Regions from separate parts of the Homo sapiens genome. Here region 2 is linked to region 1. The links come from fine-mapping of genetic effects on gene expression. A gene starts in region 1. The other region holds a variant in brackets. All regions are shown on one strand. Distances are from middle to middle. Region 1 holds the start of NR2F6 (nuclear receptor subfamily 2 group F member 6). Region 2 overlaps DDA1 (DET1 and DDB1 associated 1).

Region 1 (4,372 bases):
TCCCTTACCCTCCCTAAAGATATGACCAGAGAGCAGGCGGTTTTCCAGCAGCAAGAATGAGGCCAAAGTCTAGTGGCCCACTTTGTGCTGGAGGAGGGAGCAAGGCAGCTCTGCCACACATGGCCACACCAGGCCAGCCCTGACCCGGGACCTGGGGCCAAACTCCACCCTCGGGTACCTGGGGCCCTATTTGGTGGCCTCAGCCAACAAGCCTTCCATCAGCCGTTCTCCCTGGGGCCACTCCGATCCGAACTCAGCGGTCCCCACCCTAGCCCCACAGTTCCCCCACAGTGCCCCCAACTCGGGCAGCGTCCCTCCATGTCCAACGCAAAGCAGGCACCAGGACCTCTCTCTGGGCCTTTGGGCCTCTGTTTTGGGCAGCTGGGAACTGAGACCGTCTAGACGGGCTCCACAGAGACCCTGCATGTTCCTGGGGTGCAGAGTAGGGGCTTATAAACGGACAGATCGGATGCTCGCCCGGGAACGGTGAGAAAAGAACTCCCGGGCTGGACAACCCCGATCGCTTTCCCTGGGGACCTTCCGCCAGAACAGCTAGCAAGGCCACGCCCTGCCAGAGAGGTCTCCGACCTGGGACAGCCCAAGGCTCCTGCTCGGAAACGTTTCACTCCCTGCCCGTCTCAGAGACACCCAAAGTTTGAGGGATTTTTCCAGGAGCCCCAGGTCTGCACCCACCCCTGGGGGAGAGGGACGTTTCAGTCAATTCCGGTGGCCCTGCCGGCCTTCCAGTGGCGATTTCCGGTGACCCAAGGCCCAGAGTGAGCCCAGAGGGGTTCCCTGAGATGGGCAAGCCCAGCTCCCACCCCCACCCCCACCGCTGGGCCCCTCATGCGAAGAAGGCCGCCCCGTGCCACCCCAGCCTCCCTCCGTCTGCCGCCTCCGTAGCCACAGCGACTTTGGAAGTGATATTTGACCCCAAGGGCGCGCCGTATCGATCCGCGCGGCCGCAGACAATGGCCCCTGGACGCTGCGAGCTCCACGGTCCAAGTTCCACGTTCGATTCCCTCGAGGGCATCCCGCGCGCCGGGATCCCCGAGAACGGGTGCCCTGGGGTTGGGTTACCACCCCTGACAGCACCCCTACCCCCACCCCAGCGCGGAGATGACCCCTCCCCAGAGAAAAAGCGGAGGGAAGGAGAAGCAAGTAACTGGGGCAAAAGCCTCCAGGGACCACCTGATGGGGGGGGAACCTGCAACGATGTAGCGCCGACTGTATACACAATCCCAGCCATGGAATGCGGGAGGAGGGTGCTGTGCCCCTATCTCAGAGGGGGCAGTGGAGGCCCAGGGAAGGTCAGCGCCAGGCCCAAGGTGACCGAGCAGGTCAGAGGCCTGCCCCAGGTCGGGGCGGGGTGCACGGCGGCGGCGCGCGGATGGGGGGCTCACCGGCAGGTGTAGCTGAGGTTGCGGCGGATGCTTCGCTTGAAAAAGCTCTTGCAGCCCTCGCAGGTGAAGACACCGTAATGCTTGCCGCTCGACTTGTCCCCGCACACCACGCAGTCCACCTGCAGCCCCGGCCGCTCCTCGTCGCCCGGCTCGGCGTCGCTGGCGGCACCGGGGGGCGAGGCCGAGTCGTCCTCGGCCGCGCGCGGGTAGCCGCCCGCCTTGTCCACGCCGTTCGTGTCGCCGCCGGGGCCGCCCCAGCCGCCGGTCACCATGGCCATAGCCCCAGGGCAGCGGGGCCGGGGCGCCCCCACCGCGCTCTTCCCTCCGGGCACCCCTCTCGGCCCGGGGGACCCTACGCGGCGCGCATTCGGCCCCGGCGCGCGGGGGGCACGGGCTGCACCCCCCAAAAAAGTTTTGCAGCAACTTCCTGCGGCCGGTCCTCGCGCCCGGGCGGAACTGGTCGGGCCGGTTCCAGGCCAACTTTCCCACGCGTGCGCGGGGCCGGGCCCGGGGCCGGGAGGGGCACGCTAGAGGCGCGGGCCGGGGGCCCAGAGGACTCGCGTCCCGCCGCCCTGGGGCCCCGGCGGGGGCGCGCGGGCCATGGCCCGGCCCGAGCCGCGCAGGGGGCGTCCTCTGGCCTGGCCGCCGCTCGCCCGGGGGCTGCGGCCAACTCAGCGGGCCGCCATCCGAGCGCGGGAGGCCGGGGGGAAAGTTTGGCCGCAAGTTGCGCGGCCGCCCGTGGCGGGGGGGGAGGGGCGGCGGGTGCGCGCCGGGGCTGATCGCCGCGCCCCCTGGGTCCCCCGGCGCCCGCGGCTGCCGCTCCGGGCCTGCAGGGCCGCTGGGCCGGCGCCTCTGGAGCTGCCGCCCCCGCTGCGGCCGCTCCTGCCTGGCCTGGGCCTGCGCCTGGGCCCAAGCCTCGCTCTCGCCGCCGCCACCGCCACCGACCCCGCGCGCCGGCCTCGCGCTGCGGCCGGTTTGACACACAGCGTTCCATTCGCGGGGCGGGCGGGGGGCGGGGGCGGGGGCAGGGGCGCGCGCCGCGGGCTGGGGGCGGGCGCTCGTTGCCCCGGCGACGGCCGCCCTTATAAGGGCATGGGTGGCCGCGCGCGGCGCCGGGCGAACGGGCCGGCGGGAGGGACGGGGGCCGAGCGCTGGGCCGCGGGGCCTGACCCTCCCCCGCCTCCCTCTGCCCCTCCCCCCGCACCCCCGCCCTCGCCCTCGCCCAGCTCGGGCCTTAACCCCTGCCGGGCCGCGGCGGGAGCCTCAGCCGCGCCTGCCCTCTGCCCTTCCTTGAGCCTCGCCAAGATGTCTCTCCAAGGCCCTCCCCTCCACCTCTGGCCTTGGACGTTGGGTCGCTCGATCACCCTCGAGGCGCCCCTCGGAACCTCTCCCCACCCCACAGTTCCTGGCAAAGCAATGATGGGGGGCCAGTGGCACCCGGGGGGGGGGTACGCCCCTGCGCAAGACACACGCGCGCGCGAGACAGACAGACACACACACACACACACACACACACACACACACACACACCCTAGATTGTGTTTGCTTCCTCTTCCAGAAAGTCGCCGCGTCTGACCCCCACCCCACCCTTTCTCTGCTCGGGTTAACACCTGGTGCCCGGAATCTCCAGGGGGAAGGGATGTTGTGGTCTGAGACCGGCTGGCCGGGGCCGCGAGGTCAGGGGGCCCCTCTGCAGAATTTCTGGCCTCCGGGGGCAGGGCGCCCACCCGCCCCGCGCGGCTGGAGGCGACAGGCATGCCCTGTCTGGGGGCCTGCCCCTTTTTCCCTTTTAATTTCCTTTTCTTTCTGTGCTTTGCAGAAAGGGCTTGGCCTGGCGGCCGGCTGGACTGCAGATGTCTCTTCCAGGCGCCCTGGAGCCTCGCAGCTGCCGCCACCTCCAACTCACCCCATCCCCCAGTACCGGGGCTGGGGCCCGCCCGACCAGCATTTATTAAGCACCCTTTGTATGCGAGGCCCGGGCTGGCGAGCCTCTGGCTCTGGGCAGGTTAACCTTTAACCGGCTGGACAAGCCCTTCCAGGAGTGACCTTTCACCTCGGAGTCTTGCAGCCCCAGCCACCCAGACTGTGGTCCCACCCCGCCCTGAGCCCAGAGCTGGACACCAGAGCATGCAGCTGGGCCTCTGAGAGCTCTGGCCAGGACAGTGCCTTCTGCGCACCCCCTCCTCTGCCTCCCAGAGCCCTGATGAGACTTGAAGAATTGCCCTCCCTGGAGTAGGGGGAAAGATTCTTAGAGATCTTACAACACTTAAAAAGAAACTGAGGTTCTGGGAGAGCCAGGCACACCCAGCCCTGGGCCTCTCAACCTGCTCCAGGGACGTTCTGGCTGCCTGGGAGGTGGAGGAGGAGGCGTTAGTAAACACGAAAAGCAGGAAGGACTAGGATTAGACATGAGCAAGGACTTCCCGAGGTCTAGAGTCGGGTTCTGCCCACAGCCTGATGTAATCCCTGCTGGGAGAGAGGAAGGCGTGGGTGGGCAGAGACGACCCTTTGGTTCTGAGGCTGCATGGGAATGTGACTGGTAATTTGGGATGAGGGCAGGGATCCTAGGCCCCTTGCCTGGACCTGCTAGGATCTTTGGTGGGGAGCATTGGGGTGGAGGTCTCAGAAGGGATTGAAAAGAGATTTAGATGAGAGACAGGCGCTGTGGCTCACGCCTGTAATCCCAACACTTTGGGAGGCCAAGTCAGGAGGATCTCTTGAGACCAGGAGTTCAAGACCAGCCGGGGCAATAAAGTGAGACCCGTCTTGAGCCCAGGTGTTCAAGGCTGCAGTGGGTTATAATCACGTCACGTCACTCCACTCCAGCGTGAGCAAGACCCTGTCTCAAAAAAAAAAAAAAAAAGAAGAGGGAGAGAAGACTCAAGGAATCTTGAGGGGATTGTGAAGGGGAGGGAGCAAAGAACTAGGTTTGGGGGAGACAAGTCTTGCGAGGCAGCTGAGAGCTGGGT
Region 2 (4,307 bases), 76 kb after region 1:
ATTAAGCGTGGTGGTATGTGCCTGTAGTCCTAGCTACTCCAGAGGCTGAGCTGGGAGGATTGCTTGAGCCCAGAAGGTTGAGGCTGTCCGAAAAAAAAGACTCACAGCCCCTCTCTTTTCCCTGTCCCCCAGAACGCTGCCAAGAAGAGAGACCAGGAGCAAGTGGAGCTGGAAGGCGAGAGCTCCGCACCTCCCCGCAAGGTGGCGCGGACCGACAGCCCAGACATGCACGAGGACACTTAAGACTCTCAACTCCACAGGCGCCTCCTGCCAGGTCTGCTCCTCGGTCGCCCACCCGCCTGCCCGCCATGTGTAAGCACCCCGCCCGCCCGCCTCCCTGCCGGCCCATCCACACCCTGCGTCCACACCACTTCCAACCTCATAGGAGCCGATGTATTTATTTTCCTTGAGTTTTTATTTATGCTGTAACCTGTATCAAGCGTTGGTTAAAGGGGACATCAGACCCAGTAGTGTGATGTTGGTAGATGCTTTTTAAAAAAAACAACATTGTCCCCCCGACCCCCGCCTTCCATCGGGCCAGTTCCCCGATTCCTGCCCCCAGTTCTCCAGAGAACCAGAGTGTGTCTGTGAGAGTCTCTAGCGGGGGCTTTACTGTGGCCGGGCGACAGGGGCGGGCCCGGGGTGGCCTGACCTACCAGGACAGCCGAGTGGCCTTCTCCCCCCCAACACCGGTCCAGGCCATTGAGACTCGGTCTTGTCCCACGCTTCGCCCGGAACTTTCCCATGCCCAGGCCTCACTCAGCGTGCACGCACGTTGGGGAGAAGTCGGCCCTTGGGATCTTTCTCTTGAGTCATTTTATTTTTATCATGGACTAGTGCGTGCTCCGTGTCCACCCCAATAAAAGGGTCTTTCCTACTTGACCTCGCGTCTTTGCTCCACACACCTTGGCTGCAGAGGACGGAGCCCCTGGGAGTCATCCCTGTTGTCACCAAGAGGAGTGAGAAGGGCCCCCCACGCCAGGGGCCCCAGGACCGGCTGGATTCTCTCGTGGGCTTGCTGAGGCCACCATGTTCAAGGCCAAGACCTGCCTGGACCATCCCCTCTGCCTCTCCTGTCAAGGTGACCCCAAGGACAGGTCATTCCTGAGAGACGGTCCATGGTGCCAAGGATGGAGCGGGGTCAGCCCCCTGCCTGGGATACCGCCAAGCAGGGCAGCGCACCTGTCAGACACCGCAGAGATGGCCGGCCTCATCCGGGGGCCTGGGGTCTCTGGCCTCTGCTGCTCCCCTGAGGCATGGTGACAGTACAGACGGCATCTGGCCGGTCTTGCTGTCCTAGGTGGTGGCCTCACCCTTGCTGGGTCATAGAGGAGCTGTACAGAAGGTTGGCACCTGGCAGTTGGCATGTGCCATGGCCGCTCATGGGGACCCCTCTTCCGCCAGCTGGGCTGGGTTTGGGGCTGAGCTTGGGTATGTAGGGGTGTTCGGGCTCTGGGCAGAAGGTTTGTGGCCCTGACCACTGAGCCTGGGGCTGGGGGAACACCGCTTCTCCCCTTATTGCCCCCACTGGTGGTGGTGGGGATCTCAGTTTTCTTTTGTTTTGTTTTGTTTGTTTGTTTGAGTTGGGGTCTTGTACTCTTTCCCAGGCTGGAGTGCAGTGGCGTAATCACAGCTCACTGCAGCCTCGACCTCAAGCCTTCCTCCCACCTCAGCCTTCCAAGCCGCTGGGACCACAGGCACCCACCACCATGCCTGGCTAATTTTTTTTTTTTTTTGAGATGGAGTCTCGCTGTGTCTCCCAGGCTGGAGTGCAGTGGCAAGATCTCAGCTCACTACAACCTCTGCCTCCCAGGTTCAAGTGATTCTCCTACCTCAGCCTCCTGAGTAGCTGGGATTACACGCGTGCGCCCCTACACCCAGCTAATTTTTCTATTTTTAGTGGAGACGGCGTTTTGTCATGTTGGCCAGGCTGGTCTCGAACTCCTGACCTCAGGTGCTTCGCCTGCCTCGGCCTCCCAAAGTGCTGTGACCGCACCTGGCTGCCTGGCTAATATTTTAAAAATTTTTTGTAGAGACAGGGTTTCACCATGTTGCCCAGGCTGGTCTCAAACTCCTGGGCTCAAGTCATCCACCTTCCTCAGCCTCCCAAAGTGCTGGGGTTACAGACGTGAACCACCGTGCCTGGCAGAGGTCTCTGTTTTGAGAGCTGAGTCTGAGGGCGTTGGGATGGTGTAGGGTTGGGCCACAGAGCTAGCAGACACTCCGGGCTATGGAGGGTCCGCCTGCCCCAGATTCCACTGTGGAGGGCCCTGCCTGTGTCAGACCCTCGGGCCTAGGCGGCCCATCTCTCCCAAGGACGGAGAGTGCCAGGGTGGGCTCCCGTCCTACACAAGGAGTGGCTGACCAGGCCCAGGCACAGCACAGCCACCCTGCTGTACCTCCCAGCTCCCGGCAGTGTCTACACCACAGTGATGGTGCTACAGGGGCCATGTG[G/A]TCACAGGACAGGTGGTCAGGAAATGCACACTTGACTGCGGTCGATGGTGCCGGGTCCGGCTGAATGCCCTGGAGGCTCCCAGGCCAGCTGGGGAGTCCCAGTCCCCAGGGTTGGTGTGACCTGGGCAGGCCTGCGGTGTCCATCTGTGAATGACTGAGATGGTGGGACTTCAGCTTCCAAGGCCAGGGGCCAGAGTGGGAGCAGGGGGCACTCCCGCCTTTCCCCTCGGCCTGTCTAGACCTCTCTGGCTCCCAGTTTCTGCTTTGAGTGGCTGGGGGCTGTCTCCTGCCTGTGCTGTCTGCCCGTCGCTCTGCAGGGCTGCTGGGCGGGCACCTCCTTCCCCTCCCCTACCTCAGCTCCCTCCTTTGGGGTCTGAGGGCTGTGCCCCAGCTTGCCTCCCTGTGGCCTCCCCCTAGAACCCCTGGGTCTGTCGGGACATGCCCCACCTGGCACACACACCCTGTGTAGCTCCCACTGCCTGTGGGAGGACGCTGGGCCCCTGAGCCGGCCTCTGTCTACCCCTCCTGCCTTTGGGGTCCCCTTTACCCCACTGTTCCCCCAAACTGCCTTCCACCTTCTCCGCCTTTGCACAGGCTGTTCTCCTGCCTCCAGTGAACTCTGACTTCTCCACAGCCTCCCAAAGGGCCCCTTGCTCACACTGGCCCAGCCCTGCAGCATGGCCATGTTGGTCTCTGAGCCTTAAGCCTTTGGATGTGGACACATTTGTCCTCTTCCTGAAAAATGTGAGGGTCTGAGAGGCCACGTTCCTGTTCCTGAGTCATACGACAGAGTCCCAGTGACTTGGGTCTGATGTCTGTCCCACAGTGGGACATCCCTGCTGCATCCCAATGCCACCCCGTGTCCTGGGGACACCCAAATGTGCCATTCTCTCAGTATCACAAGTCGGGGACTGCAGGAGGCTCAGGTGCCAGGTGCCTTCTGATGTTCATGCCACAAGCTCTTCCCACTGTCTCTGGCTCCCCAGACGATGTTCCAGGAGGCGGGTGTGCCAGAAGGGGCCACGTCTTGCAAACCACCGCGCTGTCCTCTTTGAGAAGGAGTCTTACTCAGGACTGGGGCCTGTGCACACATTGTCGCCTCTTTTCAGCACTTAGAGATTCCTTCCTTTGTCTAGTGGCTGAAGCCAGGGCTGAAGTTGGCCTCCAAATCTGGGCCGTCTCAGAGGCGGCGCAGCCTGGAGTTTTCCATCTGTGGCCAAGACCCAGTTTTTGGGAGGAGGCCCTCATGGGTCAAGCCAGCCTGTACCAGGATGGGGGGAGGGGGTTCCCAACCTAGGCCCCAGCCACCCAGACTCCCCCACCCCCACTCCCTTTTCCACTGCTCTGACCTCGGGCACTGTTGAAATATAGTTTTTATTGCATTTCTGCCGTTTTACAAAAATATGACAAAATAAATTAAAAACAAATAAATAATCGCCTGTTCTGTGTGTGTGTGTGTGTGTGTGTGTGTGTGTGTTTTCTGTTGGATTTGTGGGTTTCCTTTCGTTTGGAAAGGAAAACGGCAGATGGGGGGCACCGACCAATACTGGGGGCCCTCGGGGGCTGAAGCGCATTTTGCATTTTGGAGACCGGCCGCCCCTGTGAATGACTGATATTGCATATGAGAAGAGAAGGCAGGGCGGGTAGAGCTAATGCCAGCCGCTGGGCCAGCACACGGCCTGGGGGCTGGGGCTGGGGCTAGGGGAGGGCGCTGGGGTCTCGAGGGGATCCGAGGTGGGCGGTAGCGGTGGGGGCGGGAGGCTGTAAAAGCTGGCGTCTCCCGGCAGGGGCTGGGGGGCGGGTGGGGGCCCGGCCATGGCACAGGGTGGGCACTCGGCAGCGGCCAGGGCCTG

The links. PIP is the estimated chance that this variant, and not a neighbour inherited with it, causes the effect.
Region 2: its variant is fine-mapped to the expression of NR2F6 in whole blood (INTERVAL, PIP 0.99).

What each region holds. Positions count from the first base shown.
Region 1 is chr19:17,243,540-17,247,911 of GRCh38, forward strand. It overlaps NR2F6 (nuclear receptor subfamily 2 group F member 6), which reads right to left and starts at 2,380. Exons shown (of 4, transcript NM_005234.4): 1 at 1,404-2,380. The coding sequence starts at 1,681. RefSeq lists silencers at 1,731-1,800, 1,811-1,970, 2,371-2,620, 3,021-3,100 and enhancers at 2,364-3,313, 4,263-4,372.
Region 2 is chr19:17,319,414-17,323,720 of GRCh38, forward strand. DDA1 (DET1 and DDB1 associated 1) reads left to right here. Exons shown (of 5, transcript NM_024050.6): 5 at 133-3,885. The coding sequence ends at 243. ANO8 (anoctamin 8) reads right to left here. Exons shown (of 18, transcript NM_020959.3): 18 at 3,810-4,307. The coding sequence ends at 4,104. Among named protein-coding and RNA genes, the nearest start is that of DDA1, 12 kb to the left of the region's middle. RefSeq lists enhancers at 1,943-2,559, 4,101-4,150. The variant G/A (reference allele first, on the strand shown) is at 2,455.